6 separate regions of the Homo sapiens genome follow, and all the other regions are linked to region 5. The links come from fine-mapping of genetic effects on gene expression. A gene starts in region 5. Each other region holds a variant in brackets. All regions are shown on one strand. Distances are from middle to middle. Region 1 overlaps MOV10L1 (Mov10 like RNA helicase 1). Region 2 holds the start of PANX2 (pannexin 2). Region 3 overlaps MOV10L1 (Mov10 like RNA helicase 1). Region 4 overlaps MLC1 (modulator of VRAC current 1). Region 5 holds the start of MLC1 (modulator of VRAC current 1). Region 6 overlaps MOV10L1 (Mov10 like RNA helicase 1).

Region 1 (5,243 bases), 22 kb before region 5:
CCTGAGCTCAGGCAATCCGCCCGCCTTGGCCTCCCAAAGTCCTAGGATTACAGGCGTGAGCCACTGTGGCCAGCCAGAAATCCAATAATTTTAAGAACCAACTACATCCAATGCATTTTTTAAATGCCAAAATGTGAAACAACAAAACAGAAAAATCCACCCAAAACAGCAATCACCAATGTAAGATGAAGGATGAAGAGCGACCCCTAACTCCACCTTCAGTCAACCATAGAGATGGCTGAAAGCTTCCAAAAGACAGTCTTTTTTTTTTTTTTGAGATGGAGTGTCACTCTGTTGTGCAGGCTGGAGTGCAGTGGCGCGATCTCGGCTCACTGCAAGCTCCGCTTCCTGGGTTCACGCCATTCTCCTGCCTCAGCCTCCCGAGTAGCTGGGACTACAGGCGCCGGCCACCACGCCTGGCTAATTTTTTGTGTTTTTAGTAGAGATGGGGTTTCACCATGTTAGCCAGGATGGTTTCAATCTCCCGACCTTGTGATCCACCCACCTCGGCCTCCCAAAGTGCTGGTATTACGGGCGTGAGCCACCGCGCCCGGCAAGACAGTCTTCTTTTTTTTGAGACAGAGTCTTCCTCTGTCACCCAGGCTGGAGTGCAGTGGTGCAATCTCGCCTCACTGCAACCTCTGCCTCTTGGGTTCAAGTGATTCTCTTGCCTCAGCCTCCCAAGTAGCTGGGATTACAGGTGCCTGCCACCACAACCGGGTAATTTTTGTATTTTTAGTAGAGACAGGGTTTCTTCATATTGGCCAGGCTGGTCTCGAACTCCTGACCTCATGATCTACCCGCCTCAGCATCCCAAAGCGTTGGGATTACAGGCGTGAGCCACCATGACCAGCCTCCTTTTCCTTTCTCTTTTTATTTTTTAAGACAGAGCCTTGCTGTGTTGCCCAGGCTAGAGTGCGGTAGCACGATCACAGCTCGCTGCAGCCTCAAGCTCCTAGGCTCAAGCAATCTTCCTGCTTCAACCTCGTGTGTAGCTGGGACCGGAGGTGCACACCACCATGCTCGGCTAATTTTTTTTTTTTTTTTTTTTTTGAGAAGGAGTCTCGCTCTGTCGCCCAGGCTGGAGTGCAGTGGCGCGATCTCGGCTCACTGCAAGCTCCACCTCCCGGGTTCACGCCATTCTCTTGCCTCAGCCTCCCAAGCAGCCGGGACTACAGGTGCCCGTCACCACGCCCGGCTAATTTTTTGTATTTTTTTAGTAGACACGGGGTTTCACCGTGTTAGCCAGGATGGTCTCGATCCCCTGACCTCATGATTCACCCGCCTCGGCCTCCCAGAGTGCTGAGATTACAGGCGTGAGCCACCGTGCCCGGCCTCGCTTGGCTAATTTTTTAATGTTTTGTAGAGATGGGGTCTCACTATGTTGCCCAGGCTGGTCTCAAATTCCTGGGCTCAGGCAATTCTCCTGCCACGGCCTCCTGAAGTGCTAGGGATGCTCTCCTCTTACCCCAACAACTCAGGGCTTGAAATGTCTACTATTTGGCTTATTAAAGTAACTCTTCAAAATATACTTATATGGGGCCTTTCACATCCCAAAGAAGAAAAGCGTTTTCTTTTTTTGAGACGGAGTTTTACTTGTCGCCCAGGCCTGAGTGCAGTGGCGCAATCTCAGCTCACTGCAACCTCTGCCTCTCAGGTTCAAGCAATTTTCCTGCCTCAGCCTCCCGAGTAGCTGGGATTACAGGCGAGCACCACCACGCCCAGCTAATTTTGTACTTTTAGTAGAGACAGAGTTTCACCACGTTGGTCAGGCTGGTCTTGAACTCCCAACCTCAGGTGATCCGTCTGCCTCAGCCTCCCAAAGTGCTAGGATTACAGGCGTTAGCCACCGCACCTGGCCAGAAAAGCATTTTCTTACCGCCTCTTCACTAGGGTCATACAAAGTGCCCTCCAGACATAGCATGACTGGCTGCTCTCCACCACCACTGCATTGACCACGTCACCTCTCCGGGGTGTGTACCCATCTGGCAGTTTCAAGGAGTCCAAGGTAAAGAAGATGCTTTCCTCTAACACCCCGTTCCTTCCACAGAGGCTAGAGATGCAGACCTGGGAGCAGAGAGCTGAGCGTCACAGGAAGCAGATGCTGCATGACGACAGGGCGCAGCTCTAACACACGCCCAAGTCAGCCCAAAGCACACAAGCTGCACCAGGAAGCTCAAGTCCGCCATCCCGTAGCACTGGTCCAGTGATTCTCCAACACACCTTTCTCCTTAGAACATTTTAGCACTGTTGCATAAGCTACAGACCTTAGAATTCAGGTATGCAAGCACTAGGAGTTATTGTTTCCAAACGAAACACAGCATTGTCAATAGGAAAACACACTCCTCTTTGGCCATGACAAAG[C/G]TTTATTTTTCCAGGCTTCCAACACATGCAGGAGAAGCCTGGGCCGTGCAAGTTACCCCTGATGGCAGGTCTGCCAGAAGCACAGAGAGGAGCCACTAGTCGGCACGCTACCTTGTCCACGCGCTTGTATCTCAGTGGCTTCACTGAGGTGGCTTCGCTGCTCCACGTGCCAGGCCGGATCCGGTACTCAGCCTCCACCCAGTCTCCCTTGCAGGGCTCGAAGCCTAAAACCGCCAGGAAAAAAGCCATGGTAGTGTTAAAGTGCACAAGTTATTCTGAGGTCATGGTGCACTGAAATCATTTCTATCATACCTGAGGATACATTTGAACATTTAAAAGGCACTTTCTACTACTGTGAGAAACATATTTTCGAATAAAAAACCCTGAAGTATTATTATTAACCACTGCAATAAAATGAGCTGAGCTGGAGCCTCTCACTCACACCTCCAGGCTCTAGAAGGTGCAGTGTGCATGCTCGTGGCAGTCCCTCCTCGTGTGGCACATCTGAGGGCAGGTGGCATCCCCCTTCCCCCGTCCTGCAGTGTTTGTGGCACCTCCCTGTCAGGGACACACACACGGTGTTCGGGAACAGAGAGACACCTGAACTCAGGTGTGAGGGAAGCACTCAGTGGTCCAGCCAGCCCCTCAGTGTGCCAGAGAGCTGTGCTGTGGTCCAAGCCATGGCCTGCCGGACGCAAGACACCGCTGGGCCTCCCGCAGCTGGTGGAAAACTGCAGGTTCAGTGACATGAAGTGGCTGAGTGGTGCTGACAGAACAGAGAGATGGTCTGCACAGGTCTGCCATGGTACAGGTAGTTAAAATCTTTTTGTTATTTTGCAATAAGCACTCTGGAAGCTCAAAAAAAAAAAAGTGTATAATTGAATACTGAGTTTGTGTCTCCAGAAAGCTGGTGATGAACACGTAACAGCACAAATAGCAGCTGACACCTACATTCGACATGTGAGCCATGGTGAAATCACTGTCTATGTGAAAACAGAGGCCAAGCGCGGTGGCTCACGCCTGTAATCCCAGCACTTTGGGAGGCCGAGGCGGGTGGATCACGAGGTCAGGAGATCGAGACCACGGTGAAACCCCGTCTCTACTAAAAATACAAAAAATTAGCTGGGAGCGGTGGTAGGCGCCTGTAGTCCCAGCTACTCGGGAGGCTGAGGCAGGAGAATGGCGTGAACCCGGGAGGTGGAGTTTGCAGTGAGCTGAGATCACGCCACTGCACTCCAGCCTGGGTGACACAGCGAGACACCGTCTCAAAAAAAAAGAAAAGAAAGAAAACAGAAGACACTAAAATATGCTAGGGCACTGACTTCAAGGTCAGGGAGTATTTTAAGAAGACCATGTCCTGGCCGGGCATGGTGGCTCACGCCTGTAATCCCAGCACTTTGGGAGGCCGAGGCGGGTGGATCATGAGGTCAGGAGATTGAGACCATCCTGGTTAACACAGTGAAACCCCGTCTCTACTAAAAATACAAAAAATTAGCCAGGCGTGGTGGCAGGCGCCTGTGGTCCCAGCTACTCGGGAGGCTGAGGCAGGAGAATGGCATGAACCCGGGAGGCAGAGCTTACAGTGAGCCGAGATTGAGCCACTGCACTCCAGCCTAGGCAACAGAGCGAGATTCCGTCTCAAAAAAAAAAAAAAAAAAAAGACCATGTCCTAAAACCACAATTTAATACGTGCAACTCTGGAGACACATTTATACAGCGTTTTGTAAACCATGCCTTCATTTATTCCACAATTAACAGAATTTTGCCAATTTTTATTCTCAATTTCCCTGGACATAAATGAAAAGTGAAGCAATAGCTATTAATGTACTAGTTCTATACGTTGTACAGTTACTTTAAAGAAAAAAAAAGTTAAATTCAATTAATTTTTTTTTCCAGCAGAATCATGGAATCATAGTAAAGATTTCTAGCACTTTGTGAGGCTGAGGTGGGAAGATCACTTGAGCCCAGGAGTTTGAGACCAGCCTGGGCAACACAGTAAGATCCCATCTCTAAAAAAAAAAAAAAAAAAAAAAAGAATTAGTTGGGGTGTGGTGGCATGAGCCTGAAGTCCCAGCTACTCACGAGGCTAAGGTGGGATGACTTAAGCCCAGGAATTCCAGGCTGCAGTGAGCTACAATTGTGCCACTGCACTCCAGCCTGGGTGACAGAGCAAGACCCCGTCTCTAAAAAACAAAAACAAGCAAACAAAAGTAAAGATTTCAGAAGACCTTTCTATTGAAGGAGAAATATTTGACATTATGGTGAATGCCATTGTAAATTAAGTTTAGAAATTCAACACTGGAGATAAAAATATATGTTTCTACAGTGATAACAGGATGTTAACGGAGTAAAGCACCACAGTACAAATCAGACCCTGCAGGTCAGGAAGCTGAGACAGCAGAAATGCACTCAGATGGCTATAGCGCACACGTGATCCTCCAGACATGCAGCCAGCTGGAAGACAAGCACGTACAAGTTCCTGAACTTCTATGACATACATACATGCACAACTCCTGTGACAAAGCTCATGACAACGAAACACACACACGGACACTGGGGGCTGGCAGCCCTCATTTTCTCTTTGCTGCTCCCCCAACCTGGATTTTACAAATGCTGGAACCTGAGGAACCGTTCTGTAAATCAACCAAAAGGTCCTGTGATGATGCTCCTTTTACTTTCTTTTTAAGTGAGATCTCTAAATTTTGGTTTTACTTTTTTCAAGTCAGCAGAAAATCTTTATTTAATACATGTAGAACCCCAAATCTTCAGCTTTTGATAACTTTTGCAAATTGTAGTTATTGAAAATAAAGCTGATGAGCAGGAACATGGAAAAACAATGGAGGAAATAATGAGGCCTCAGGAGCCCAAATGGAGTCCAC
Region 2 (5,243 bases), 84 kb before region 5:
GCACTTTGGGAAGCTGAGATGGGAGGATCACTTGAGCCCAGGAGTTTGAGACCAGCCTGGGGAACATGGCACAAAAATTAGCTGGGTGTGGTGTGGGATGCCTGTGGTCCCTGCTACTGGGGGCTCGGGGCTGAGGCAGGAAGAACACCTGAGCCCGAGAGGTGGAGGTTGCAGATCGCACCACCGCACTCCAGCCTGGGCGACATACCAAGACTCTGTCTCAAAAAAAAAGGAAATTTGGACACAGACAGGGAGGGAAGAAGCCCATGAGAAGACAGAGGCAGAGACTGGTGGCACGGCCACGAGCCAAGGCGCCCAAGGATTGCCGGCAGCACCAGAGGCTGAAGAGGCTGGAATGTCCCTTTCCTAGAGCTGTGGGAGGGAGCAGGGCCCTGCCGACACCTCGATTTTGGACTTTTGGCCTCCGGAACCATGAGAGATAAATGTCTGCTGTTTGAAACTGCCTAGTTTGCGGTACTTGGTTGCTACAAACACAGAGAACACACGTGGTGTCTGGACATGCTGGGCCTGCCCCAAGGCCCCACCGCACGCCTGGGCTCCCTGCTCTGCAGAGTGTGCTGTGTGCCCACCCCAGGGGTCCTCTAATCCCCGGGGTCTGGCCTCCAGTGTCGAAGAGGAGACCAGCAGAGGCCTCCTCCACCCCTGGGTGGGATCAGACAGCCTGGCCAATGTCCACCCTCAGGCCTGGTGTCTCCAGGCCACGGGGACTCCTTAAGGCAAGGCATCTGGGAGATTTGGGAAGCGCCAGTGCTGAGGCAGGGTCTGCTGAGGTTTGGAGGCTGCAGAAGAGAGGGCCCCAGGGTCCCAACACCCCTCCCCGCTGCAGACTAGTACCTCTGGGCCACACAGGCCAGGAGACCCTGATCCCCCTTGCCTTGGCCCAGACCCCAGGGGAGGAAGTTCTCGGCTCCACCTGTCTCGCCCCACTCCTTGGGGAGGGCAGAGGCACCAGGACCCCACCCCGCAGAGGCTCACAGGCAGGCTGGCTGCTCTGTCCATCTTCCTGCCTCGCCTGGGTGGCTTCAAGTGCCCCCACAGGTCCTGATCTAACCAGCGCGGGTCCCTGCCCTGGTCCAGCCCCCATCTCCCTGCAGGAGCTCCAGGCTCCCTGCTCTGACACGTGGCCCTGCCCCATGCTAGCCCCCCTGCTTCAAACCTTCGGAGGCCCCCAGTGCACCCGGAGAGGCCTCGCCCTGCCTGAGGGGTGGAGGGCCTGGGCCTCTCAGAGACTCTCTCTGCCCTCCTTCCACCCAAGTCCAGCCTGGGAACCCTGCCCGGCAGCTCCACCAGCCCCTGTAATCAGCTCTCTGCTGTCAACACCCATCCCGGCCTTTCCTGGTCCCCACCTGGCCACCCTGCATCCCCTCAGGCGCTGCTTGTGACATTCTCCAAACCAGACCCCGTGTCTCATGACATTTGGGACCCCTGGGTCCAGACAGGCCTAGTCCCACCCGCGGCCATGGGCGGACGAATGGAAGGAAGAACAACAATAAAATAGAGACGAGGGGTCTGTGCGACCAGCGACACCTGCTAGGATGGGGGCGGCTGTGGAAGGTGCCTGGGACGCCGCGGACGCAGCCAGGCCACGGTGGGCGCGGCTGGACGGAGCCGCCGGGGACGCGGGAAGCGCCAGCTCCCGGACACCTGCGGACGCCCCCTCTGCCCGCGCCCCGCGCCCCGGCCGCCGGCCTCACCTGCGAAGTTCTTGGTGAAGACCAGGGTGACCAGCAGGATGGGCACCAGCACGGTGCCGATGGTGACCACCCGGTCGAACGGCAGCTCCAGCTTCAGCTGCAGAAGCAGCGCGGCCAGCGCGCCCGCCTTGTCGTCCTGCGCGCCCGGCAGGATCAGCTCCCGCAGCTTCTCTCCCGCCAGCAGCGCGGTCGCCATGTCCGCCGACTGCTCCAGGAGGTGGTGCATGGGGGGCGGGGGGCGCGGCCCGGCGGGGGGCGCGGGCGGGGCGGGGGGCGCGGGGCGGGGCCCGGCGAGGGGGGCGCGGGCGGGAGGGGACGCGCGGCGCGGGGGCGGGGATCGGGGAGCGTGGGGGCGCGGGACGGGGACGGGGCCGCGGGCCGCGGGAGAGGGTGGCAGGGGACGCCGGGACCGAGCGGGGGGCTCCGGGGGATGGGAGTAGCCGGAGGCGCGCGGCGGGTGCGGGGCTGGCCGGGCGCGGAGCCCGCAGCGGGGTTTGGGGGGCGCTCCGCCGCCGCCCCCGGGGTCAGGGGGCGGGCGGGCCGGGCCGGGGCGGCGGCGGGGGGCACCGGAGCCGCCCGCCTCCGCCGCAGCCCGGCCCCCGCCCTGGCGCGTGCCTCCGGCGGGGGCGGCGGCGGGATCCCGGCCCGGAGCGCGGGCGGCGGCTGCTGTCCCTGCCTGGGGCCGGCGGCCCCGCTCCCGCCGCGGGGAGGGGGCTGTTTACCTGCGGCGACTCCGCGGCGTGGCTCCGCCCCACCCCGCCCCCCGCCACGCAGATGCGGCGCGGGCGATGACTTTGCAGAAAATATTGAAATGAAATGAAAGGACATGAATGAGTAATGACCGGT[C/G]CCTCTTCCTGGGAACGCGGGGTGGCTGGCGGGGGGCTGCCCCGGCCCGCGGGAGGGTGGGCAGGGGTGGGGGCGGCCCTGCGGGGCTCCGGGCTGGGGCGGGGGCGCCGCTCGGTGGCGACGTGAGGACTGGGCGCGCGCTGGGGCTGCCCCCGTCGCATCGCAGGGCCCTTCGCCCAGCCCAGGGCGCAGAGGGGGCTTCCTCGCCTGGGCCCCCCACCTGCCCCGGCCGCGCCCCGCTGTGGGTCCGGAGGTTCCCGCGCTCCTGGGGTGCTGCGGCCACTGGCGGGGAAGCCGGCGCTCTCTTCTCTGGGCTCGGGCGCCAGTGCGCGGGCAATGAGGGCATCTCCCCGCCCCACACCCTCCACTGCAGCCCCGGCCCCACCCGACCCCCCCACCCAGTACCCCCAGTCCCGCCGCCGTGAGTGACCCCATCACCCCCGCTCCTGCAGCCCGCACCTCCTTCCCCCACGCCCCATCCCGTCCCCTGTTCCACAGACGTTCCCGGGGCCTGTGCCAGCTCAGGGGGTCCCCGCCGCCTCCCTGACCTTCATTCCCTCCGCTCCCCACAGCCCCGCCCTCCGTCCTGTTCTCCCTCGGGGAGCCGGGGGTCTGGCTTCAGACGCGGGCGCATCCCGCGTGGTCCCTGCCTCTTCGAGGCAGCCGTTTTCCCTCGTGCAGGTCCCCTTCCCACTATACCAGGACGAACGTGCACGATCTTTCATATAAAAGATTTAGTGTGATTGGAGTTTTAAGTTCATTCAATAATTCATTCCAAAAATGTATTTTGAGCCCGTGTTCACAGGCCCGGCCACTGCTGTGAGCAAACCAGGAGGTCCCCCTGCCTCCCTGGGCTGCGTAGGGGATGTGTCTGCTTTGAGCTTTCACGCCGTCTGCGTTTTTAAAGATCCTTGCATGTTTTCTGAGGGATGCCAGCCCCTGACTTCCAGCAAACTTCATCCTGAGGCAGGCAGTTCAGCTACATCCAATCCCAGCACCCAACCACCCAGTCACCCCAGATAAACCCAGTCACCCCAAATAACCCAGGCACCTCCAGATAAATCAGCCCTGGCAGATAACCCAGTCACCCTGACAACCCAGGCACCCCAGATAAACCAACTCACCCCCCGATAACAGTCACCCCTACCAGATAACCCAGTCACTGCCAGATAAACCAGTCACCTCCCAAATAACCCAGTCACCTCTCACATAACCTATTCACCCCAGATAACCCAGTCACTGCCAGATAAACCAATCACCCCAAATAACCCAGGCACCCCTCACATAATCTATTCACCCCAGATAACCCAGTCACTGCCAGATAAACCAGTCACCTCCCAAATAACCCGGGCACCCCTCACATAACCTATTCACCCCAGATAACCCAGTCACTGCCAGATAAACCAATCACCCCAAATAACCCGGGCACCCCTCACATAATCTATTCACCCCAGATAACCCAGTCACTGCCAGATAAACCAGTCACCTCCCAAATAACCCGGTCACCTCTCACATAACCTATTCACCCGATAACTCAGTCACTGCCAGATAAACCAGTCACCTCCCAAATAACCCAGTCACCTCTCACATAACCTATTCACCCCAGATAACCCAGTCACTGCCAGATAAACCAGTCACCTCCCAAATAACCCAGTCACCTCTCACATAACCTATTCAACCCAGATAACCCAGTCACTGCCAGATAAACCAGTCACCTCCCAAATAACCCAGTCACCTCTCACATAACCTTTCACCCCAGATAACCCAGTCACTGCCAGATAAACAATCACCCCAAATAACCCGGGCACCCCTCACATAACCTATTCACCCCAGATAACCCAGTCACTGCCAGATAAACCAATCACCCCAAATAACCCGGGCACCCCTCACATAACCTATTCACCCCAGATAACCCAGTCACTGCCAGATAAACCAGTCACCCCAAATAACCCAGTCACCTCTCACATAACCTATTCACCCGATAACTCAGTCACCCCCAGATAACTCAGTCATCCCAGATAAAATCATCATCCCCAAATAACCAAGTCACCCTTCAGGTAACCAGATAAACCAGTCATCTCCTAGATAACCGAGGCACCCCTCAGATAACCCATCCCGTATAACCCAGTCACCCCCAGATAACCATCACCCCAGAGAACCCAGCCACCCCTCACATAACCAAGTCACCCCCCCTCCCCGACAACTCAGTCACTCCCAGATAACCCAGTGCAGTGAGTTCCAGCCCCTCCGAGCGACCCGAGTGTGGCTGCTGGGTGGCTGCCTTTGTTTTCCAGATGCACTTTCTGCTTTCGCATGGGTGCCTCTCCATGCTTTCCAGAAGTGCTCGGCCAGTCCATGCTCTCACCATCCCTGTCTTCTTTCCAGCTCTCAGCCCTATCCACCTTCTAGTATCTGCCATTCTCGGGGGGAAGGGGGGGCGGGTGTAGCTTCCAGGTGCTTTGAGTTTATCTCTAGCGGTTTGTGTGCACGCTCTCTTCAAACCCTGAGCACTGCATCACTGGTCAGAGCTCACTGTAACCCTGAACTCCTGGGCTCAAGCAATCCCCCCACCTTGACCCCCCAAGTAGCTGGCATTATAGATGCACGCCACCATGCCCAGCTTTTTAAAATTGTTACTATTATTATTATTTTTTTGAGACAGAGTCTTGCTCTGTTGCCCAG
Region 3 (5,243 bases), 32 kb before region 5:
AGAACACCTCAAACCCCTACAGAAAAAAACCCTCCTGGACAAAGGGCAATGTTCTCCCCTCAAACTGCCAAATTTATAGACTTTTCTTCCTTCTTGAACTTTTCTTCTCCACCTACCCCACTCAGAACGTGCTCCTCTGTCTCCCATGTGGGTGGGGACCTGGGCTCTCCTCCCCTGGACCCTTGCCCTGCTGGCTCTGTCAGGATGATGGTAAAAGGCTAGAACACTTCTTGCTCATAACAAAGGCCTCCTAGTCTAGCGAGAGAGGCCAGGCTGATGGCAGAGGTATCCCTCAGTTCTTCTGCTCCAGACCCCAAAGGCCCTGTGCGTGACCCCCAGTGAGGCTGTGGGATGCCAGCCCCTGGTGTACAGCAGGTCTGGCAGCGTGAGTGCTATGGTGCCTCATCCCTCACGGCCAGGCAGTGACCCTCGTTATCCCAGCTACCTGTGAAGAAAACAAGCCAGATGAAGGTCTGAACCTGAGAAGGAACCTCCTGGCTTTGTCAGAAAACAAGAGCATTAGAAGATGCCAACACCCCACAGGCCATGAGACACTTCCTACCTCTGCAAGTAATGGCTGGAAAGTCAGGATGTCAATTTTTTGTTCCACACATTTTCTAAGTCTATCTGGGATTGGATATTGGGGAAGAAAACTTGGAAGTTGTCGTCTTGAGTTCCTTAAAAAATTAAGTTCACAAGTTAAAAATAAGTCTTTATCACCAGGTATCACTAGACATTCTTACCTAAACATCCTTTCCTATTTTAGGAAGACCAAAGTCCATCCATTTCCTGAGAAGAACTGATATATGAATAGCTGGTCTAAGGCAGTGGTTTGAAGCTTTCGTTTTAGCTCTGGGATCCTTTCCTCAAACAGTTCCCACAAGTGCTCTACTATTTGTAAACAGGTAAGTGTAGCTGCACAGGCTGTGGGAAAACAGGGCTGGAACCCCCAGAATCTCCTGGAACCAGGAGTTTGGAAACAGCTGTTTTTAACATTCTATGAGCTAAGCTCTTCCTACTATATTTGACATCAGGACTCCACCTGGGCCTATCCCTGCAAAGCACACATTAGGAAAAGGCTGCTCTGTCTGGGTCCTGCCTTCGATTTGTTTTTGTTTTGTTTCCCAGCCTGTGGTTTCTCTGGGGAAATTCAGTTTGTTCAGGATGAAGAACATCGCTGCTCTGGAGCCAAGCCCAATGCGGCAACAGAAACAATGGGAAAGGGACAGACAGGAGAGGAGAAGCCAGGAGAGAACAGGGAAACGAAAAGTCAGAGTGAGGTCGATAAAACTCAACTCAGCAAATAAGGATGTTGGTTGGACCTTTATCCCTCATTCCCTCCCAGCTCTCCATTTCAGTGCAGTCTCACCCAAGAGAGAAGCCCACATTGCTCTCCGTATTCCATTCACTGTCATCTCAATTTGGGTTCCACTGGCTCAGCCCTCAACAGGAGAAACGGGGTGAAGACATTCCCCATGGTTTGTGCTGAGGGTTATGTCAGCGCTCACATGCGAGGTGTATTTGGAAAGCATTGATTACTAACACGAACAAGGTAAAGGGAAACCAGGATGATCACTACAGGCTTAGGTCAACAGCCTGAACAGCTAACAGAACCATGTGGCCTCAACAGACACGCTGGATTAACAAAATGTGGTTCCTACCATGATGGGTGGCTAGAAACTTGGCTGGGAGTGTGCTGGCCTACAAAGCCCCCCAGAACAGATCTGCTAAGTGAACACTCTGCTCTAGCTAAGAGCCAAAGTTGCCTGGCACTGGGGGTCCTAGCAGGAAGTGCAGGACCTGTGACAGGCGGCCACGGATGGACAGCTCTGGAAGCAGGCACCCGCCAATGCCCGCGTGGGCAGGTCCAGACACCTGGTGCTCCAGGTGTGCTCGAGCCAACCCGGGTCAGGCACTCTGGGTCACTAACCTGAGTGGCAGGAAACTGATGTCCTTGTTTTAGATACGCTCCCACACAATATGTTAATATTCACGGGGAAGTAACTGACCAGGGG[GT/T]TAAAATCCTTGTGGCTGTTGCTCTGTGTATTTCACTCTTTCTGTTAAGCCAAATGATAACTAGAAAGCTGCTTGGTGTGTCACTAGATGAGAACCAGGGATCCTCCAAGGCTCCTGTCATTAAAACTCGATCCTCGGGGACTCTGCTCTGCCTGGCAGCCGAGGGACTTTCCTGCTCCTTTTCTGGGTTACATCCCTACAGCCCCTTGATGTTGAAACTGTGCCCCAAAGAGTTAAAGAAACCGATGACTAACAGAAATTCTTGAGCCTGCAGGATGGGTGATAAGAAACAACTCCAGCGCTGAGTCTCCCCCTGCTTATGACATCAAAGGACTGGCTGAGATCAGCTGGAACCAAGATGGACAACTGGAGTTTGTGCAGAGCTTACTGACGTCACAGCCTGGATTCCCACCGTGTTTCATGCGAACTCCCTCCGAACTGGCACATGTGACCCATGAGGTAGCATGAAGGGGTAACTATGCACACCCAAGGCCTTTCCAGACCTCCCTTTTCCTTCCACCAACCACCTATTAATCCCAGATTCTACCCACTAAACGTTTTCTGACAAAATTACTGCCTTAAAGCCAGCACAGAGAGACACATTTGAGCTTGACTCCTGTCTCCTTGGGGGTTGGTTTTCAATACAAAGCTTTTCTTTTCTCAGAAACCCACTGTCGTAGCAATGGCCCCTAGTGCATCAGGCAGTGAGCCCCTTTTTCTCAATAATAATATGCCCAGGGATCATGACTGCTTATTCGCTTACTGAGTGATTGCTTTGTGCCAGAAAACTGCACATTTTACATGTCTGACCTCATTCAATCTTCAAACCACACGAGGCAGGGACTATCATTTTACCAATGAGAACAAGGCTCAGAGTGGTTAAGAAACTTGCCCAAGGTCACACAGCTTCTTGGTGGTGGTGCTGTGATTCAAACAATGGTCTAACCTTAAAAGGTAAACAACCACATGATATTCTTCCCTGGTAACAGGTTTTCCCTTTAGTCTGCAACTAAGTAGAAGTCCATAATCCCTCATCTTGAACTGTAACTGGGGCAACACGTGATTTGAAATTCAGAATCTTTCAGTATTAGAAAAGTGACCCACCTCACCCTCAGGGAGGTCTGGGGTAGTAGCAGAGCTCAAACCCATCAGTTATTATAGCCGATGGAGGAAAAGTCACATCACACGGGACTAAGTCATTACACTTTAAAAAGCCTGCTATTCAGGGCTTTTTCGTTTTATAACTACAGAAGAGAACACGTGGATGTGAAGTGCTTTCCTGAGACTACCCTCCAGTTAAAATCTGGGTGGTCCCTATGTTCCCCAGCCACAAGTCCCAGATCACACACTGCTTCTCCTAACTCCATTCTTAAGTGGTACCACATCTTCAAACAGGCTTCAGGTGACCCCACAATCCTGTTGCCCCCAGTGCGAATGACACGGGGATGCCGTGCACTACACACCATGGCCTCGTCAGGACGGGAGAGGTGGCAGGAGCTGGGTGAGGCCAGCCTGCTCTGAGAGCCACCTTGGAACTGCCAGAGCAGAGTGGGGCTTGGGGGAGTGAAGGCCGTCTTCCTTGGGCTTCACGCTGCTGCTGGGCAGCTGCAGAGACAGAACTTGACCTTCAGAGCTCCGTGGAAATGCACTCCATCCCCCAAATACAATCATGGAAAGAGGCTTGAACCCCAGCTTCATCCCCTTTATACCTCCCCAGCCAGGTGGTAGCCACCGCTTGCCAGTGCACGTCCGCTTTTCCTTCACAGATAAAACTGCCAGACCAAGAGCCACACTCATTTCAGTTATGGTACCTTTTCTGTGCGGTCACAACAACTGTAGTTTTTGCGGATGTTAACGCTTGTGAACTTTTAAGCTTTTTCCAAGAAAATGGTTCGCGCGCAGCAATTAGTGACTCCTCCCCACTGATAACATTTACTTCAAGGTATCGCCCAATTAGGAAATCGGAAAAACAGAGCAAAAGGAGCTCCTTGCAGCGGCCAGGATTTCTTGAAAAAAACAAAATGAAATTTAGTTTTAGTCATAAATAAGATAGGCAGTCAACACAATTTTCCTTTGTACATACAAGAAAAGTGACAGAGTTAAGACTCATCTTTAGTCTTCAATAATTCTTTTTACAGAGAAAAAAGAGATCTTCTAAAATAAGCTATGTAATTAATATTTTCTCAAGATAAAATTAAGCACCTACAGGCCCGGTGCGGTGGCTCAGGCCTGTAATCCCAGCACTTTGGAAGACTGAGGCGGGCAGATCGCTTGAGCCCAGGAGTTTGAGACCAGCCTGGGCAATATAGGATGAACCTGTCTCTGCAAAAAATACACAAATTAGCCGGACATGGAGGCGTGTGCCTGTGGTTCCAGCTACTCGGGAGGCTGAGGTGGGAGCCTAGGGAGGTGGAGGCTGCAGTGAGCTGTGATCATGCCTCTGCACTCCAGCCTGGGCAACAGAGTGAGACCCTGTCTCAAAAAAAAAAAAAAAAAAAAAAAGTAAGCATCTACAATAGTCTTTTTTGTAATCCTAACACATATAAGAGTAGGAAAAAATTTTGATATTCCCAATTTTAAGTCAGAATTTTATGACATGACCAAAAATAGGTACTATATCTAATGTGCTTTCTGCCCAGTCCTCGCTGTGGCTCTAACTGGGGCTACATCATCCACACTACACTTTGTGCCCCCCTATGGCTTTTTTTTTTTTTTTGAGACGGAGTCTCGCTCTGTCACCCAGCCTGGAGTGCGGTGGCGTGATCTCGGCTCACTGCAAGCTCCGCCTCCCAGGTTCACGCCATTCTCCTGCCTCAGCCTCCTGAGTAGCTGGGACTACAGGTGCCCGCCACCACGCCCAGCTAATTTTTTTTATTTTTAGTAGAGACAGGGTTTCACTGTGTTAGCACCTATGGCTTTTTTGAAAAAACCTGTTTCTATGTTGTCATAATGTCAAAAAAAAAAAAAAAGCATTGAAGCTGGCTGCACCTCACACAGCTGACTGTGCACTTGCCACCCACAGCTTGATGTTGATGAGCTGTGATTTAATCAGATTTAAGTTTTTCAAAAAATTTAGAATTAGACACCCAGCTGGAAGGCTATCACGCACTGTCGGGCAGCTTAGGCAGGGATGCAGGGACACAGGGAGCTGGAGGACAGGGCCTGTTTGGTCAGCTGATGTAACCAACCACACCAGGGAGAGCGAAGGGCTCAAGGTTGGCGTCTGG
Region 4 (5,243 bases), 23 kb after region 5:
CACTTCTCCACAGCCCCCCACAGAGGGTGTCACGCTGGAGTTCGGTGACACGGGTGGGAGCACCTCCGTCTCAATGTGGGTGAGGACGAGGACCTCTTACAAAGCATGAGGACGTCTGCATTGCTTTTTCAGTGGACTCTGCTCATGTCTCCTGACCATTTTCCGCTAACCCTGGTGCCGGGGGAGACCAGCTCCATCTGTGATGGAGGATACAAATGGTGGTCTCAGCCTGGCGGCTATTTCTTGTTCTGCTTGTTGTGATTTTTGTTATGTGAAAGCTATTTTTTTAAATAGTTAAGTTGATTAATATTTTCTTTAATGGCTCTGGATTTTTTTTTTTTGAGACTGAGGAAAGCATAGGCTTTGCAATAAATGGTGTCTCAACAACCGAAGAGCAAAGACCACATGGGGCCCATGCCTTTACCATCCTCCAGGGTAAACTCCAGCTGGGAACACAAGTACCAGACTTTCTAATAATTACTTAAAATCCAGGCCGGGCGTAGTGGCACATGCCTGTAATCCCAGCAGTTTGGGAGGCCGAAGCAGGCAGATCACCTGAGGTTAGGAGACCAGCCTGGCTAACATGGTGAAACCCCGTCTCTACTAAAACTACGAAAATTAGCTGGGCGTGGTGGCGGGTACCTGTAATCCCAGCTACTGGCGAGGTTGAGGCAGGAGAATCGCTTGAACCTGGGATGTAGAGGTTGCAGCGAGCCGAGATCGCGCCACTGCACGCCAGCCTGGGTGACAGAGGGAGACTGTCGCAAAAAAAAGTTTTATGTTAACTTGAGAAGAGCTGTTCGTTCTGTTTCTTCTCTTACTTTTTGTAGCAGTGACATTGGATAGATGTTTGGCTCTTTTGTGTGTTAACATTTAGTTGCTTTGTTTTTCTTGAGCCAACACGGGAAAGCTATCCATGGGCACAGAGGGTTTTGGGTGCTCCGTGGTCACTCTCTGGCCCCCTGCATCCTCGGCCGCTCCCTCCATCCTCTTCCCTGCCGAGCTCACCGCGCTGCCTCCTGCCCCTTCCTTCCTAGCAGCTGGTGCTCAGGGGTGAAGCTGTTGGGGGTCTGTGCACCCCATCCCCCCAGGACGGCTGCCCCCTGTCTCCTCCGCTCAGGATCCTGCTGACACGGAACGGTCAGCGCTTCTGCCTCCCGCGGACATTCTCTCTGGCTCTGGGACTGAGCCTTGCGCGTGTTGGAGCAGGAGGGGTGGAGCGACTTGACCACTAGCAGCCAGCACTGTCCACGGGGCCTGGCAGTGGCTCGGTCACTTTTATTCCTGTATGTTGAACACAAGCTGATGGAATTTAAAGCAGAATTGACCTCATTAATTGAGCTAGAATGATTATCATCAGGTTGTTGAAATAGCAATGCGTTTGGGTTACTGGGGCTCCGACTCGAGCCCTGGCACCTGCTCTTTGTGAAGGCCGTGGGCACGAGGGAGCTTTGGTCTCCTGGGCTGGAGGGCGGCTGGGCCACTCTGCTCACACCTCCTTCCGCCTGCAGCCATCCTACGATGTGCTGCTGCTGCTGCTGCTGCTAGTGCTCCTGCTGCAGGCCGGCCTCAACACGGGCACCGCCATCCAGTGCGTGCGCTTCAAGGTCAGTGCAAGGCTGCAGGGTGCATCCTGGGACACCCAGAACGGCCCGCAGGAGCGCCTGGCTGGGGAGGTGAGTGGCCTGCAGGGGGAGGGGGCACTGGGGAGGTGAGTGGCCCACGGGGGTGCCCAGCCAGGGAGGTGAGAAGCCTGTGGGGTGGGGGGAAGCTGGGGAGGTGAGTGGCCCACAGGGGTGCCCAGCCGGGGAGGTGAGTGGCCTGCAGGGGGAGGGGGTGCTGGGGAGGTGAGTAGCCCACAGGGGTGCCCAGCCGGGGAGGTGAGTGGCCTGCGGTGCAGGTGCTGGGGAGGTGAGTGGCCCATGGGGGGCCCAGCCAGGGAGGTGAGAAGCCTGTGGGGTGGGGGCACTGGGGAGGTGAGTGGCCCACAGGGGTGCTCAGCCAGGGAGGTGAGAGGCCTGTGGGTTTCAGGGGTGCTGGGGAGGTGAGTGGCCCACAGGAGCACCCGCTGGGGAGGTGAGAGGCCTGCGGTGGGGGCTCCTGTCCTGGTGAGGGCCTCCGAGGGCCACACGACGTGGCCCTCGAAGATTCATTGTGCCACTTTGTATTTTTAAAAACACCCCAGAAAAACCCCGAAGAAGTAAAATGTCTTTCTTTTCTTTTTTTTTTTTTTTTTTGAGAAGGAGTCTCAGTCTGTCACCCAGACTGGAGTGCAGTGGCGCGATCACGGCTCACCACAACCTCCGCCTCCTGGGTTCAAGCAATTCTCCTGCCTCAGCCTCCCGAGTAGCTGGGACTACAGGCACCCGCCACCAAGCCCAGCTAATTTTTCTATTTTTAGTAGAGATGGGGTTTCACTATGTTGGTTAGACTGGTCTCGAACTCCTGACCTCATGATCCGCCTGCCTTGGCCTCCCAAAGTGCTGGAATTACAGGCGTGAGCCACCGCGCCCAGCCGTAAAATGTCTTTTAAAAATACAAACACAAAGCCTGGGTAAACCCAGACCCATCCCTGGGAAATATTCTGGACTTAATGCTTTCAGATTTGCTCTTAGAGACACAGAAGAGGGCTTTGTGAGGACTCCCACAGGTCCTGAAGTTTCCTTCCCTGGTCTCTGGTGGGGACGCGGTTCTGCAGGGAAGGCAATGCCCACCCAGCCTGGCACATGGGGCTCCGTAAAGCTGGGGTGTCAACAACTTCTGGCTGTCACTGCCTGAACAATGTTCCCCCGGGCCCTGCCTACTGTCTTGCTGCCCCCACATCTGAAAGGCAGAGGCTCAGCGTCTTCCCCCCACCGAGCTACGGGTCCTGGTGGTGCTCCCCTGGGCAAACCTGCCCGCTGACCCTCAGGTGCAGTGACCACTAGGACTGTCACCTTGATGCCCAAACACCTGGGCAGCCACTCAGCGGGGCTCTGAGTCCTGCCCCACCTCTAGGCCA[T/C]CCTGGGCGGACCGGCCGCTGCTCTTGCCCTGCACACCCTGCCCTCCTGTGTTCAGCACACCACCGGCCTCAGAACCTTGGTGCAGAGCCTCCAGTGCCCGCTAAGTCCCGGAGGACGCTCTCTTGCCCTTGGCTCGTTTCTCAGCTGACCCCGTCGCCCCCACCCTCCACCCTCCCTACTGCTGTTCCCTTAACCTGCCTCCTCAGTTGCTTTGCTGCCATTTTTCCTGGCTGTGGTCAGTCTCCCTGCTAGGACGGCAGTCCCTGGGCCTGAAATGAGACCCGCCTGGGTTTCTGTTGTGACCAGCAAGGCCCAGAGTCAGACGCATGAGGTGTTCTCCCCAGATCCCAGAACTGCTGGTCCCAGGGGCTCAGGGTGGGCGGCTGGGGCTCAGGGTGGGCGGCTGGGGCTCAGGATGGACGGCTGGGGCTCAAGGTGGGTGGCTTGGGCTCAGGGTGGGCGGTTGGGGCTCAGGGTGGGCGGCTGGGGCTCAGGGTGGACGGCTGGGGCTCAGGGTGGATGGCTGGGGCTTAGGGTGGACGGCTGGGGCCCAGGGGCTCAGGGTGGGTGGCTGGGGCTCAGGGTGGACAACTGGGGCTCAGGGTGGACAGCTGGGGCTCAGGGTGGACAACTGGGGCTCAGGGTGGACAGCTGGGGCTGGCGCTGTCCTCCCTTTTGCCTGGAGGCATCTGGTTACCTCTGCCTTAAGTGTTTTCTTCCTCAGCCGTCAGGCACATGCCCAACCTTGGGCGGCCTCCCCCCGCTCCCCGCCCCAGAGCCAGGGCAAGGGGCCGAGTGAAGGGCTGCTCCATCCCAGGCTCGGTAGAAACCGTGTGTGCGGGGGGGGATGCAGGCGTTTCTGGGACACTGAGGAAGTGAAGGCTTTTATCTCTTTCCACAGAGGCCCAGGGGTTAGTTTCCCCACTTCCTTCACATTCGAAGAAAACTTCTGAACGCTGGCTGCTCGCTGCCTGTGGCCGAGTGGCGTGTCCACCTTCCCGCCGCACAGGTGGCCCTGGTGAAGTAACACCTTTCCTGTCTCGGTTGCAGGTGGCCAGGAGCCCCCTGAAGGAGTTCGACAAGGAGAAAGCCTGGAGAGCCGTCGTGGTGCAAATGGCCCAGTGACCCCCAGACGCGGAAACCGGGTGGCAGCGCCCAGCCTGGCCCCAAGCATGGAAACGCACAACCCCTAATCGCCCTGAGCTACTGCTTCTAACACCTCTTTTCCCTTGTGTGAGGGCAAACCAGGCTGCAGGTGGGGTTTTCACTTCCTAGGGTAGTTTAATTTTAAAATAGGCCAATGTTGGCTAGTCTGTGCCTCAGTGAGATCAGTCAGCTCCGAGTGGCTCCCGTGTCGTAACAGCAGGAGCATGGCCGCAACTTCCCAGGCCGAGGAAGGGCCCCCGGCTCGGCCTCTTGAGAGCCCCACCCCTGAACTGGCCCCAGCTCCTCTTCCTGCCTCTCTCATGGCTTGGGCTGGAGTGGGCTCTCTGGACCTGACCAGACTGTGGGTCCCTGCGTCTCCTGCCCACTCTGACCGGGCTTCCTCCCTCCACGCTTAGGGTCTGTCCCGGGTACTCAGTCAGCCCAGTGGGATCTTACCCACTTCCCTGCAAGGTGCACCTGCCCCAGGCTCAGGCTGCCCAGCGGCTCTTCCTGGACAGTGAGAGCAGGGCTGGGCGCCTCTGTCCTGGCCCGGGAGCCGCAGGGGCCCCTCCTCCAGAGCCTGGGCGCAAGCGACACAGGCTGCCGCTGCTCTCCCAGGTGAAATCCACACCAGTCCACGCCGGGTCGCCTGCCCTGTCTCCCTACTTAGACCCAGTCATTCTAGAGGGATCCACCGCCACACTGGCCGGCCCACGTCCTGGGTGCTGTCATGCCCAGCTTGGAGTGCCACGTGGCCGCTGCCCACGTCCCGGGCACTGTCATGCCCAGCTTGGAGTGCCACATGGCCGCTGCCCACGTCCCGGGCACTGTCATGCCCAGCTTGGAGTGCCACGTGGCCGCTGCTGTGACAGGCAGTGTTCTTGGGGGTGGGGCTGCATCCAAGGCTTTGTAAACCGGCTGGACCACGTCTCCCTGGCCCCAGTGACCGGGGGAAGCTGAGCCCCTCCCTCCTGTGTTTGCTCCCATTACTCAAAATGCAGGACAGATCAGGTCAGAGCCCAGGAATTCTCACAGGTTCACCCAGCGCCCTCTACCTCCTAGCAAGTACTTTGTCTTGATCCTCACTGAGAAGGC
Region 5 (5,243 bases):
ATCATCCCTTGATTTCATTGATTTTTCTCTATTTTAAAAATATCTTTACACTTTGCGAGGCCAAGGTGAGCAGATCACTTGAGGTCAGGAGTTCGAGACCAGCCTGGTCAACCTGCCAAAATCCTGTCTCTACAAAAAAATACAAAAAAAATTAGCCAGGCATGGTGGCGCATGCCTGTAATCCCAACTACTTGGGAGGCTGAAGCAGAAGAATCACTTGAACCCAGGAGGTGGAGGTTGCAGTGAGCTGAGATCACACCACTACACTCCAGCCTGGGAGACAGAGCAAGACTCTGCCTCAAAACAAAAACAAAAACAAAATACGTATATATATCTTTACTATTCCAGTGGTTTCTGTTTTTTATTATTTCTTTTTTTTTTTTTTTGAGATGGAGTCCTGCTCCGTCGCCCAGGCTGGAATGCAGTGGCATGATCTTAGCTCACTGTAGCCTCCACCTCCCGGGTTCAAGTGATTCTCCTGCCTCAGCCTCCAGAGCAGCTGGGATTACAGGCGTGCGCCACCACGCTGGCTTTTTTTTTTTTTTTTTTTTTTTTTTTTTTTTGTATTTTTAGTAGCGACAAGGTTTTACCATGTTGGTCAGGCTGGTCTCGAACTTCTGACCCGCAGGTGATCCACCCGCCTTGGCCTCCCGAGTGCTGGGATTACAGGTGTGAGCCACTGCGCCCAGCCCCGACTTATTTTTGATTGACATAGCTTTATTTTCCTAGGTCAGATCTGTCAGTCTGATGACAGCCTGGACCTTGCCTGTCCATGGATGCAGAGTGTACTGATAGTTCTTGCTGTGGGAAGGGAGAGAGTGGCGCACTCCCTAGCATTTCAAATCCCCGCTAAGCCTGTGTCTTGGGCTGGGTGCTGGAACACATACAGGAGCCAGCAGGGTCCCAGGGACCTACTGGTTGGTGGGAGATTAGCTTGGAAACAAGAGCGAGCTGCATGAGGGCTGGTGGCTCATGGGCTCCCTGCCAGGGCAGCTCGCAGCGGGTGCTGTGCCTGCAGGGCTGCCCCTCAGCTCCCCAGCTCGGGCCACTCCCTGGGATTCTGGACTCAGTAGACCCGGCAGATGCCCACAGACATCTCGGCCTCATCATGTCCAGAATGGAACTCCAGATCCTCGCTCCACACCTGCTCCACCCTGGTCTTCTCATCTCTGTCCTCACTGCTCAGACAGAACTCAGCAACGTCGCCCTGACAGCAGATTGCGTCCGCTCTTCAAACCCTGTTCAGAGCCCAGTCCCTCCTCACCACTTGCCCACTGCCACCTCAATGCCAGGCAGCACCTGCTCCTCCCACCCCCCAGCCTGCTCTCCACCCAGTGAGTGACCGGATGCTGCTCTGCCCAGACCCCTCCAGCAGGTCTGTCTCAGAGTTGAAGCAGAGTCGTCTCCATACCCACAGGTGCTGGCACCTGGCTGTCCTACCTGTATCCCCCTTGCATGGTCCTCGCCTGCCTTCCCCAACCTGTGGCCTTTGCTTCAACTCTGCCAGCCTCCCCTCCCTGCCTCCTTCTCACTGAGGCCTGCCCTGGCCCCTGCAAACAGCAGCCCCTCATTTCTCTCCCCTGACTTCTTTTCCCTCATAGAGGAAATCATGTGTGTCACTGGATGCATTAGTCTGTTCTCACGCTGCTATAAGGACATACCCAAGACTGGGTAATTTTAGAGTCAAGTCCTTATAAAGGAAAGAGCTTTAATTGACTCACAGTTCCACAGGGCTGAGGAGGCCTCAGGAAACTTACAATCATGGTGGAAGGGGAAGCAAACATGTCCTTCTTCACAAGGTGGCAGGAAGGAGAAGTCTTGAGCAAAAGCGGGGAAAGCCCCTTATAAAAGACCATCAGATCTCATAAGACCTCACTCATTGTCAGGAGAACAGCAGCATGGGGGTAACCACCCCCATGATTCAATTACCTCCCACCGGGCCCCTTCCACGACATGTAGGAATTATGGGAATTACAATTCAAGATGAGATTTGAGTGGGGACACAGCCAAACCATATCACTGTATAACACACTAATTTGTTTATCCTGTGCACTCCTGTGCCCCCAATGAATGTAAACAGCCTATAGGAAGGACGTCACTTCTTTGTCCACCCCATAAATGTTTGTTGAATGTTGAATGATGATGGGACATCAGCAGGCAGAGGGATGAAGGGCATTTTAGGAGCAAGAATTTGTTGGAAGATTGTATGAAAGAACAGGGCCTGTTCTAGAAACTAGTGTTGCCAACAGAAACTTGGGAGCATTTCTCAAGTGATGACTTATGATCTGGGAAGCTGAGGGATTTGCTCTGCAACCTCTGGTTCAGGGCAGCTTGTTTGTATTTCTAAGTGGAGAGCAACTTTTGAAAGAAAAAAATGTTGAAATCCGATTAACATTTTTTTCCAAACAAAAAGAAACACAGGAGGATTCGATCCAGTTGGACCCACTCCCACTAATCCCGTTTATCGCTTTAAAAGATAGTGAAGTTTGGGAGGTTTCTCAATCCATTAAAATGAGTTCTTGACTTCACAGATTATAGTTTTTGAAAATTATTTCTCATCCTTGCTTGATTGAAATGAAGACAACAGAACATTGGCTGTGGTGGCTGGCACAAAATTAACTAACCCTAAAATACTAGTATAGCTTAAACTTTCGTTTATTGCTAAAAATTTATCACTGCTGTTTCCTGTGGGGGTGAGGTTGAGCAAAGTGTTTTGAGCTGCATTTATGCGTACTTGACACTTACGCATTTTGATCGAGGTGATTTAGTGGGCATTTTCACTGGGACAGGGATGCTTGTATGTGTAATCTTACTAAAAGCTAATAAAAACTTACTAAAAGCTAATAAAAGCTTACTAAAAGCTTCTTGCTTGATTGAAACGAAGACAACAGAACATCCCATGGTCTGGAACCTGATGACTTTGCTCAAGTTTTAATGTGGGTTCATGGTTTAAGGAGCTGGTTTTTCAGAAACTTTAGTTTGAGCCTTTTTACAATGTGCACAAAGAACCCGTTGCTGTAGTTGTCAGGGTGCCAGTGTCTCTGGGCGACACACATTACTGTGGTTTTTCTCTGCTTGGTGAGCAGAGATAAAGGGGGCAGCAGGACCGGGCCCACCAGCCATCCGGGCTGCCCACGCAAACCACAGGGCCGAATCCGGAGCCGCCCAAGGCCACACAGCTAAGCCGAGTGCGTGAATGCTTATGTGACCGTGTGAAGGAGGTTCCCACCGTGTGGCTGTGGGGGATGGAAAAAGGCTACTTGGAAAGATGTAGAAGACCTTCGAGTAAACAGTTACGTTTCAGAAACAGAGCCTGCTCAGAATGTGTACTTGGTGGGATTCTATTCTTAGGGACGCTTCTTTCTTCTGAGAGACCCGAGCTCTGTGGCGAGTGGCACAGGCAGGGCCCCTTCCTTTCCTAGTTGGGTTCTGACAGCTCCGAGGCAGTGGTTTACACAACCAACACGAAACATTTCTACGATCCACCCGATTCCTCCCCTCATTGATATTCAGGAAGCAGCTCTCCTTCCCCTGCCTTCAGCTCAAGTTTGCTGAGCTTTTGTTTCATTTGTGAATACTTCTTGCTGGAAGTCCCTCACCCAGAGACCAGTGCTCCCAACGGCAGAGCAGCGGGGGAGGTAAGTGCTCAGACATTAAGCCGTTGAGTAGAGGCATGTTTTGCAATCTCTCGTTTAGCTACCAATTGGAGCAGTTTAACGTGCTTGAGTCCCCGGCGTGATGTGTTCATGGACGAAGTTGCCGATGGATGTTGTCAGGTGTTGCACCTGGAGGGCCCAGATGGATCAATGAGGCATTTAAAGTGTAGAATCTCACCCTGAACCCAGACTATTCAGGTCCGTTTTTCTAGGAAAGTTATTTCTTTTTCACTTTTAGATTCAAGTGCTCATTTTCTTCTTCAAATTTAGAGCACTTCAGTATGAACAATATTTCTTTTGTTAAAAAATATTTCTTGGAAACAACTTATTGAAGTTTCCTCAGAGTGGCCAAAGCCGATGATAATTTTATTCCAGATAAAGAACTGGTGACACGTGGCTGTACATTCAGCACAGCTGTGGTGTCCCCAAGTGCCATGACCCAGGAGCCATTCAGAGAGGAGCTGGCCTATGACCGGATGCCCACGCTGGAGCGGGGCCGGCAAGACCCCGCCAGCTATGCCCCAGACGCGAAGCCGAGCGACCTGCAGCTGTCGAAGAGACTGCCCCCCTGCTTCAGCCACAAGACGTGGGTCTTCTCTGTGCTGATGGGGGTGAGTAGCTCCACACTAAGCCCTTGGAGGGCCACGAGCATCTGGTCCCTCTGGTGACGGACTGCAGCGCCCTGGAGCCCCAGGTGGGACAGAGAGAGCAACTCTCAGACTAACCCTGCTGCTGCAGAACTCTTGGATGCCGACGAGCTTGTTTTGCTTGTGTTTTCACAATTATTTTTATTAATTTATGGGTGTCTGTTGTGCCAGCCTTGAGCTGCTCCAGGTTGTGGCTTAGTCCCACCAGGGTAGGGACAGTCCCAGGGCCATGAATGGGCCCCAGGAGTCTCCATGACCCTCGGCTCTGGGGGCCCAGGGTCCTCTGAGGGGTCACCTGCAAAGGTGGGAGGAGGCGTCTCAGGCCTTCAGGTCGGCCCTCACAGAGAGAACCTCAGGGACCTCCTCCTCCTAGGGAGGGCCTCAGGGGCCGGCTGGGAGGGAGCTGGGGAACAAAGGAACAGGTCTGGGGTGGACGGGCAGCGCCAGATGTCCGAGGGATTTCCCTGGGGTCCTGGCCATTCCCTGCACAGTCGTGGGCACAGAGATGATTGGAGGAGCCACTTGGGCCTGAGTGTGTGCAGCTGCTCAGAGCCATGCTGCAGGACAGGCCTCTATGCAGGGACCCCCGGTTCCGTGTAGCTTGGGCTGAGAATGAGATCCAGGCTGTGATTTCTCCCCTCCCTGTGCCCTGGCCTCCGCCGGCAGCCCCTGCAGCACCCACAGTGGTCCTGCCCACCTCCCGTGGCCTGAGCATGCCCCACCAAGACAGGCGTCTGCCTCGGAGCTGGGGACAGAGGCGGCTCCCGGGTGGTGGTGGCCATCTCCGGGCTCTGCCCTCCTCCACCTGGTGCCCTGGACTTGGTCGCAGCCCCTCCCCCGCCCAGGCCAGATCCCCTCTGCCCCAGACCTCGCTTCCTCTGCCAGGACCCTGGGTCCCAGTGACCTTTGATACTGACTCCCCTCAGACTCACCCCGGGGG
Region 6 (5,243 bases), 49 kb before region 5:
TATAAAATATGTATATTTATATATGTATATATATAAAATATGTATATTTATATATGTATATATATAAAATATGTATATTTATATATGTATATATATAAAATATATATATGTGTATATACATATGTATTTTTTGAGACAGAGTCTTGCTCTGTCGCCCAGGCTGGAGCGCAGTGGCATGATCTTGGCTCACTGCAATCTCCACCTCCTGGTTTCAAGCGATTCTCCTGCCTCAGCCTCCTGAGTAGCTAGGTCTACAGGCACATGCCACCACACCCAGCTAATTTTTTTTCTGGGATGGAGTCTTGCTGTATTCTATTGCCCACGCTGGAGTGCAGTGGCGCGATCTCGGCTCACTGCAGCCTCCGCCTCTGTTCCATGTTAGATAGTTTCTATTGCTCCGTCTTCAAGTTCACTAATTTTTCCTTCTGCATTGTCTAGTCTGCTGATAATTCTGTCCAATATATTTTTCATTCTAGGCATTGAATTTTTCATTCCTAGAAGATAAAATTGTCTTTTATATATCTTTCGTGTCTCCACTTAACCTGCTCATGTCTTCTACTTTCTTGAACACATGGAACATATTTATAACTGTTTTAATGTCCTTGTCTGCTAATTCCACCATGTTATTTCGGGGGGGTTGGTTCCAATTGACTAAATTTTCTCCTTTTGGGTTACGTTTTTCACTTTTTCATTTTGTAACCAGATGTCAGTGTCCATTTTATACCTTGCTGGGTGCTGGATAATTTTATATTCCTATAAATATTCTTAAACTTTGTTCTGGGATGTAATCCAATTATTTGGGAACAGCTTGCTTCTTTTGAGGCTATCATACTTTGTCAGTCTGGGCCGGAGCAGCCTTCAGTCAAAGGCTGGACTTTCTACGCTCCTGAGACAACACCCTCCCATGGATTCTACATGTGAATTACGAGGTTTTTCTTCTCTGGCTGTGGGCACAGCTATTTCTGGCACTGTGTCAACTTTTAAGGATTGTTCTTGCTCCTCCTTCCAGCTGGTTCTTTTCCAGGCCTGGGTATTTTACTCACATCATGCACTGATCAATGCTCAGCTGAAAACTCAAGAAGGAATCTCTGTAGGTGCCCAGCTGCTCTCTGTCCCCTGCCCTCTCCCCAGCACTCTACTCTGTCAGCTTTATCCCCCTTGTCCTCCCCACCCTTCCAAATGCTGTCTCTGTACTCAGGTCACTGCACTCCGCCTGGGCTCCCTCTTGGTGCTCTCTGGCCTAGACACTCTCGGAAGGCTGTGAGTTGGGAAAACCATGAGGTCACCTCATTTGTTTCCTCTCTCAGGAATCCCTGTCCTATGATAGCTGATGTTAATGTCTGAAATTGTTGTTCCATATAGTTTGTCTGATTTTTTATTGTTTCAGGAAGGAAGATAAATCTGGTCCCTGAAATTCTATCTTGGTTGACATATGAAATATTCTTGAGTTTATTTTCAATCTAGTTAATCCATAAGAAGATAAAGTTTCAGGTTTTAAAACCTACAGTCAATTAGGAATGTGCCCACCTAAATAGTAACACCTCCCTGATCTCACATGCCATCTGCACCACAGACTCTCCCCGAGAATCAGGCAGTAGAATGAACCAGTAATGAGGTGATGACGGAGAAGAAAAGCACTGTCCAAGGAAGACTCTTTTCTATTTGCAGAACAAAAAAGAGATCAACTATGAAATATGCCACAGATGACTTTCAAGGATAACCTCTTGCTGCTTCATTTGTCGTATTTTCCATGATTGTATAGGCATTCTAAACCTATCATTTTTGCATTTTGGGGGAGGAACTATAAAATGGTGAGCATTTTTGAGTATTAGATATAATTTAAAAATTCATGTTATACATTGAAAACATGCTCATAAAACCAAATTTGAATAGCACAAAATAAGTTGTAAGCTCCACCATGACACAGATGATTTTCTTGTTACTAGAAACATGAAGATAAATAAAACCACTTCTATTGTATTCACAAAAATATACTGAGAGCCCAGGACAATACCTGGCATGTAATAGGCACTATATTACTATTTATGGAGTGACTGGATTATAGAAGCTTTTTTTTTTTTTTTTTGAGATGGAGTCTCGCTCTATTGCCCAGGCTGGAGTGCAGTGGCGTGATCTCGGCTCACTGCAACCTCTGCCTCCTGGGTTCAAGTGATTCTCCTGCCTCAGCCTCCTGAGTAGCTGGGATTACAGGTGTACACCATCATGCCCGGCTAATTTTTGGATTTTTAGTAGAGATGGGGTTTCACCATCTTGGCCAGGCTGGTCTTGAACTCCTGATCTCATGATCTGCCCGCCTCGGCCTCCCAAAGTGCTGGGATTACAGGCGTGAGCCACTGCGACCGGCCTAGAAGTTTTTATAAAATATCTTTGCAACATTCACAAAGTTTGCAAATGTTAACAATTTGCGGGGTGTGTATCCTTCCAGACATTTTCCATGCATACACAATCACATAAATGTACCTAAGTGTACACATAAACCATATAATTTAAAAATAAAACTCTAAGGCCGGGTGTGGTGGCTCACGCCTGTAATTCCAGCACTTTGGGAGGCCGAGGAGGGTGGATCACAAGATCAGGAGATCGAGACCAGCCTGACCAATATGGTGAAACCCTGTTTCTACTAAAAATACAA[A/C]AATTAGCTGGGTGTGATGGCACATGCCTGTAGTCCTAGCTACTCTGGAGACTGAGACAGGAGAATCACTTGAATCTGGGAGGCAGAGGTTGCAGTGAGCCAAGATTGCACCACTGCACTCCAGCCTGGGTGACAGAGCGAGACTCTGTCTCAAAAAAAAAAGAAAGAAAAGAAAAAAGAAAAAGAAAAAACCCAACTCTAAGGTCATATAAACATCTGTACTTTGCTTCCCCTATTTAATATATTGTAGCCATCTTAGCCCTGCATCTTAGCCCTTGCATATAAACTTTACACTAAATCTATTTTTGAATATTTTAGTTCACTTTATTTTAACTGCAATTTTGAGTTATTTGTGAACCACACTGCTCTAATACTCCAGTCAACTAAGCGCTAATACTCCGAGAAGGAAACGCCCACCCCCTGTGTAGACAGTTACATCGCTGAGCCATCCCCTGTGTAGAGACAGTCACGCCGCTGAGCCACCCCCTATGTAAAGACAGCCACGTCGCTGAGCCATCCCCTGTGTAGAGAAAGCCACATTGCTGAGCACTACCTTTTTGCTGGTGGACTGTCCACTGCTTTTGGTGTCTTGTGCATGGTTCCAATTTCCCGTCACTTGTGGAGACTGTAAAATAATTTCTTCTGGAAACAACACTTTTAAAACAAAAAATGGTAAGAGCACGGGTATAACTAAAAAGCTAAAAAAATATTAATAGAGGTTGTTTATGGCTGACCCTAAAGCAATTAATATTCTATTCCCTTCCTTTCTTAACCTGCCTGTTATACTGTTTCTAAATTATAGCATTATTAGTACTGCATATTCTTCACAACAAAGCCCTTTATTTGCCCATCTGTAAAAATTCATAAATTACATTTATGAAGGGAAAAGCGAGCAAGATAAATTTATTTTCGGTTATTTAAGCATGCTATTATTAGTTATTCACTAAGTTGAAATAGTAAGAAAACACTAAAACTTGATAGAAAATTAAAAACATGAATATAACAAAAGTTTTACTTCTAATATTATGACTGAAGAGACTATTTTACACAAAATTTTACATGAAGCCTATAAAAATACTCTGTGAAGATGTAACACTATCATTCTATAAAAGTAATACCTTTTACACCTAAGTGGATGACGTGTTCAAGTGCAAAGTGACACCGTCTGCTTGTGGTCCTGCAGGAAAGAAAACCACATAAAATAACTAACCTTACATTCAGAAATATTAAGGCTGGCATAAGGTAATGAAAATTTTATGATACAATCTTTAAGTCAATATAAAAAAATCACAGCAACAATCCAACAATCAATGAAATAGAGAACAGAAAAACACTAGAGAGGACGGGCGCGGTGGCTCACGTGTGTAATCCCAGCACTTTGGGAGGCCGAGGTGGGTGGATCACCTGAGGTCAGGAGTTCGAGACCAGCCTGGCCAACATGATGAAACCCTGCCTCTACTAAAAATACAAAAATTAGCCAGGCATAGTGGTGGTGCACGCCTGTAATCCCAGCTACTCAGGAGGCTGAGGCATGAGAATCACTTGAACCTGGGAGGCAGAGGTTGCAGTAAGCTGAGATGGCACCACTGCACTCCAGCCTGGGTGACAGAGTGAGACTCTGTCTAAAAAAATTTTTGTAAAAACCACTAGAGAATACCAAAGAAGCCAAAAAAAAAAGCATGGGACAAAATCCCACACCCATTCTTTCTTTCTTTTTTTTTTTTTTTTTAGAGACTCTGCTCTGTTGCCTAGGCTGGAGTGCAGTGGCACAGTCAGAGCTCACTGAAGCCTCAAATTCCTGGGCCCATGTGATCCTCCCACCTCAGCCTCTCAAAGTGCTGGGATTACAGGTGTAAGCCACCACACTTGGCCCCATATCCATTCTTGATTAAAAACTCACTAAAATAAGAATCTATCTCCTCAACCTGATAGAGGGCCACTACGGAACCTACCACCCACGCTGTACTAACTCGCTCAGGACTGACAGCCCTGCCCCTAAGACCAGGGACAAAGCCAGTGCAGCACTTGCCACCACTTCTATTCCACACTGGCACACAAGTTCCAACCAGCGCAGGAAGGCAAGGAAAACAAATACACAGCATCCAAATAAGAGAAGAAGAAGTAAAACTGTCTTTGGTTTTTTTTTTTTCAGACGGAGGCTTGCTCTGTCGCCCAGGCTGGAATGAGTAGCGTGATCTCGGCTCACTGCAACCTCCGCCTCCTGGGTTCAAGCAATTCTCCTGCCTCAGCCTCCCAAGTAGCTGGGATTACAGGTGACCACTACCACGCCCGGCTGATTATTTGTATTTTTAGTAGAGATGGGGTTTCCCCATGTGGGCTAGACTGGTCTCAAACTCCTGACCTCAGGTGATCCGCCTGCCTTGGCCTCCCACAGTGCTGGGATTACAGGTGTGAACCACCACACCCAACCTAAAACTGTCATTCTTTGAATCAATGATTATATATGTAGAAAATTCTACAGACTCTAGGAGAAGCTACTGGAGCTATTCAGTTTAGGAGACTTGCAGGATACAAGGTAAACATACAAAAATCAATTGCTTTTTATAAATACTAGAAACAAGCAATTAGA

Evidence for each region. PIP is the estimated chance that this variant, and not a neighbour inherited with it, causes the effect.
Region 1: its variant is fine-mapped to the expression of MLC1 in whole blood (TOPMed, PIP above 0.99).
Region 2: its variant is fine-mapped to the expression of MLC1 in unexposed skin (GTEx, PIP above 0.99). The same link has a PIP of 0.9 or more in sun-exposed skin.
Region 3: its variant is fine-mapped to the expression of MLC1 in whole blood (TOPMed, PIP above 0.99).
Region 4: its variant is fine-mapped to the expression of MLC1 in whole blood (TOPMed, PIP above 0.99).
Region 6: its variant is fine-mapped to the expression of MLC1 in whole blood (INTERVAL, PIP above 0.99).

What each region holds. Positions count from the first base shown.
Region 1 is chr22:50,105,481-50,110,723 of GRCh38, reverse strand. MOV10L1 (Mov10 like RNA helicase 1) reads right to left here. Exons shown (of 27, transcript NM_018995.3): 4 at 2,476-2,588; 5 at 1,880-2,067. Among named protein-coding and RNA genes, the nearest start is that of MOV10L1, 18 kb to the right of the region's middle. RefSeq lists an enhancer at 4,792-4,901. The variant C/G (reference allele first, on the strand shown) is at 2,365.
Region 2 is chr22:50,167,429-50,172,671 of GRCh38, reverse strand. It overlaps PANX2 (pannexin 2), which reads right to left and starts at 1,941. Exons shown (of 3, transcript NM_052839.4): 1 at 1,716-1,941. The coding sequence starts at 1,941. RefSeq lists an enhancer at 416-1,108 and a silencer at 2,708-2,767. The variant C/G (reference allele first, on the strand shown) is at 2,562.
Region 3 is chr22:50,115,936-50,121,178 of GRCh38, reverse strand. It overlaps MOV10L1 (Mov10 like RNA helicase 1), which reads right to left. Exons shown (of 27, transcript NM_018995.3): 9 at 3,828-4,022; 10 at 563-677. Among named protein-coding and RNA genes, the nearest start is that of MOV10L1, 29 kb to the right of the region's middle. The variant GT/T (reference allele first, on the strand shown) is at 2,016.
Region 4 is chr22:50,060,467-50,065,709 of GRCh38, reverse strand. It overlaps MLC1 (modulator of VRAC current 1), which reads left to right. Exons shown (of 12, transcript NM_015166.4): 11 at 1,512-1,676; 12 at 4,053-5,243. The coding sequence ends at 4,127. Among named protein-coding and RNA genes, the nearest start is that of TTLL8, 4.8 kb to the right of the region's middle. The variant T/C (reference allele first, on the strand shown) is at 3,002.
Region 5 is chr22:50,083,750-50,088,992 of GRCh38, reverse strand. It overlaps MLC1 (modulator of VRAC current 1), which reads left to right and starts at 3,567. Exons shown (of 12, transcript NM_015166.4): 1 at 3,567-3,638; 2 at 4,032-4,267. The coding sequence starts at 4,091. RefSeq lists an enhancer at 3,295-3,919.
Region 6 is chr22:50,132,594-50,137,836 of GRCh38, reverse strand. MOV10L1 (Mov10 like RNA helicase 1) reads right to left here. Exons shown (of 27, transcript NM_018995.3): 14 at 3,772-3,830; 15 at 3,207-3,307. Among named protein-coding and RNA genes, the nearest start is that of PANX2, 36 kb to the left of the region's middle. The variant A/C (reference allele first, on the strand shown) is at 2,654.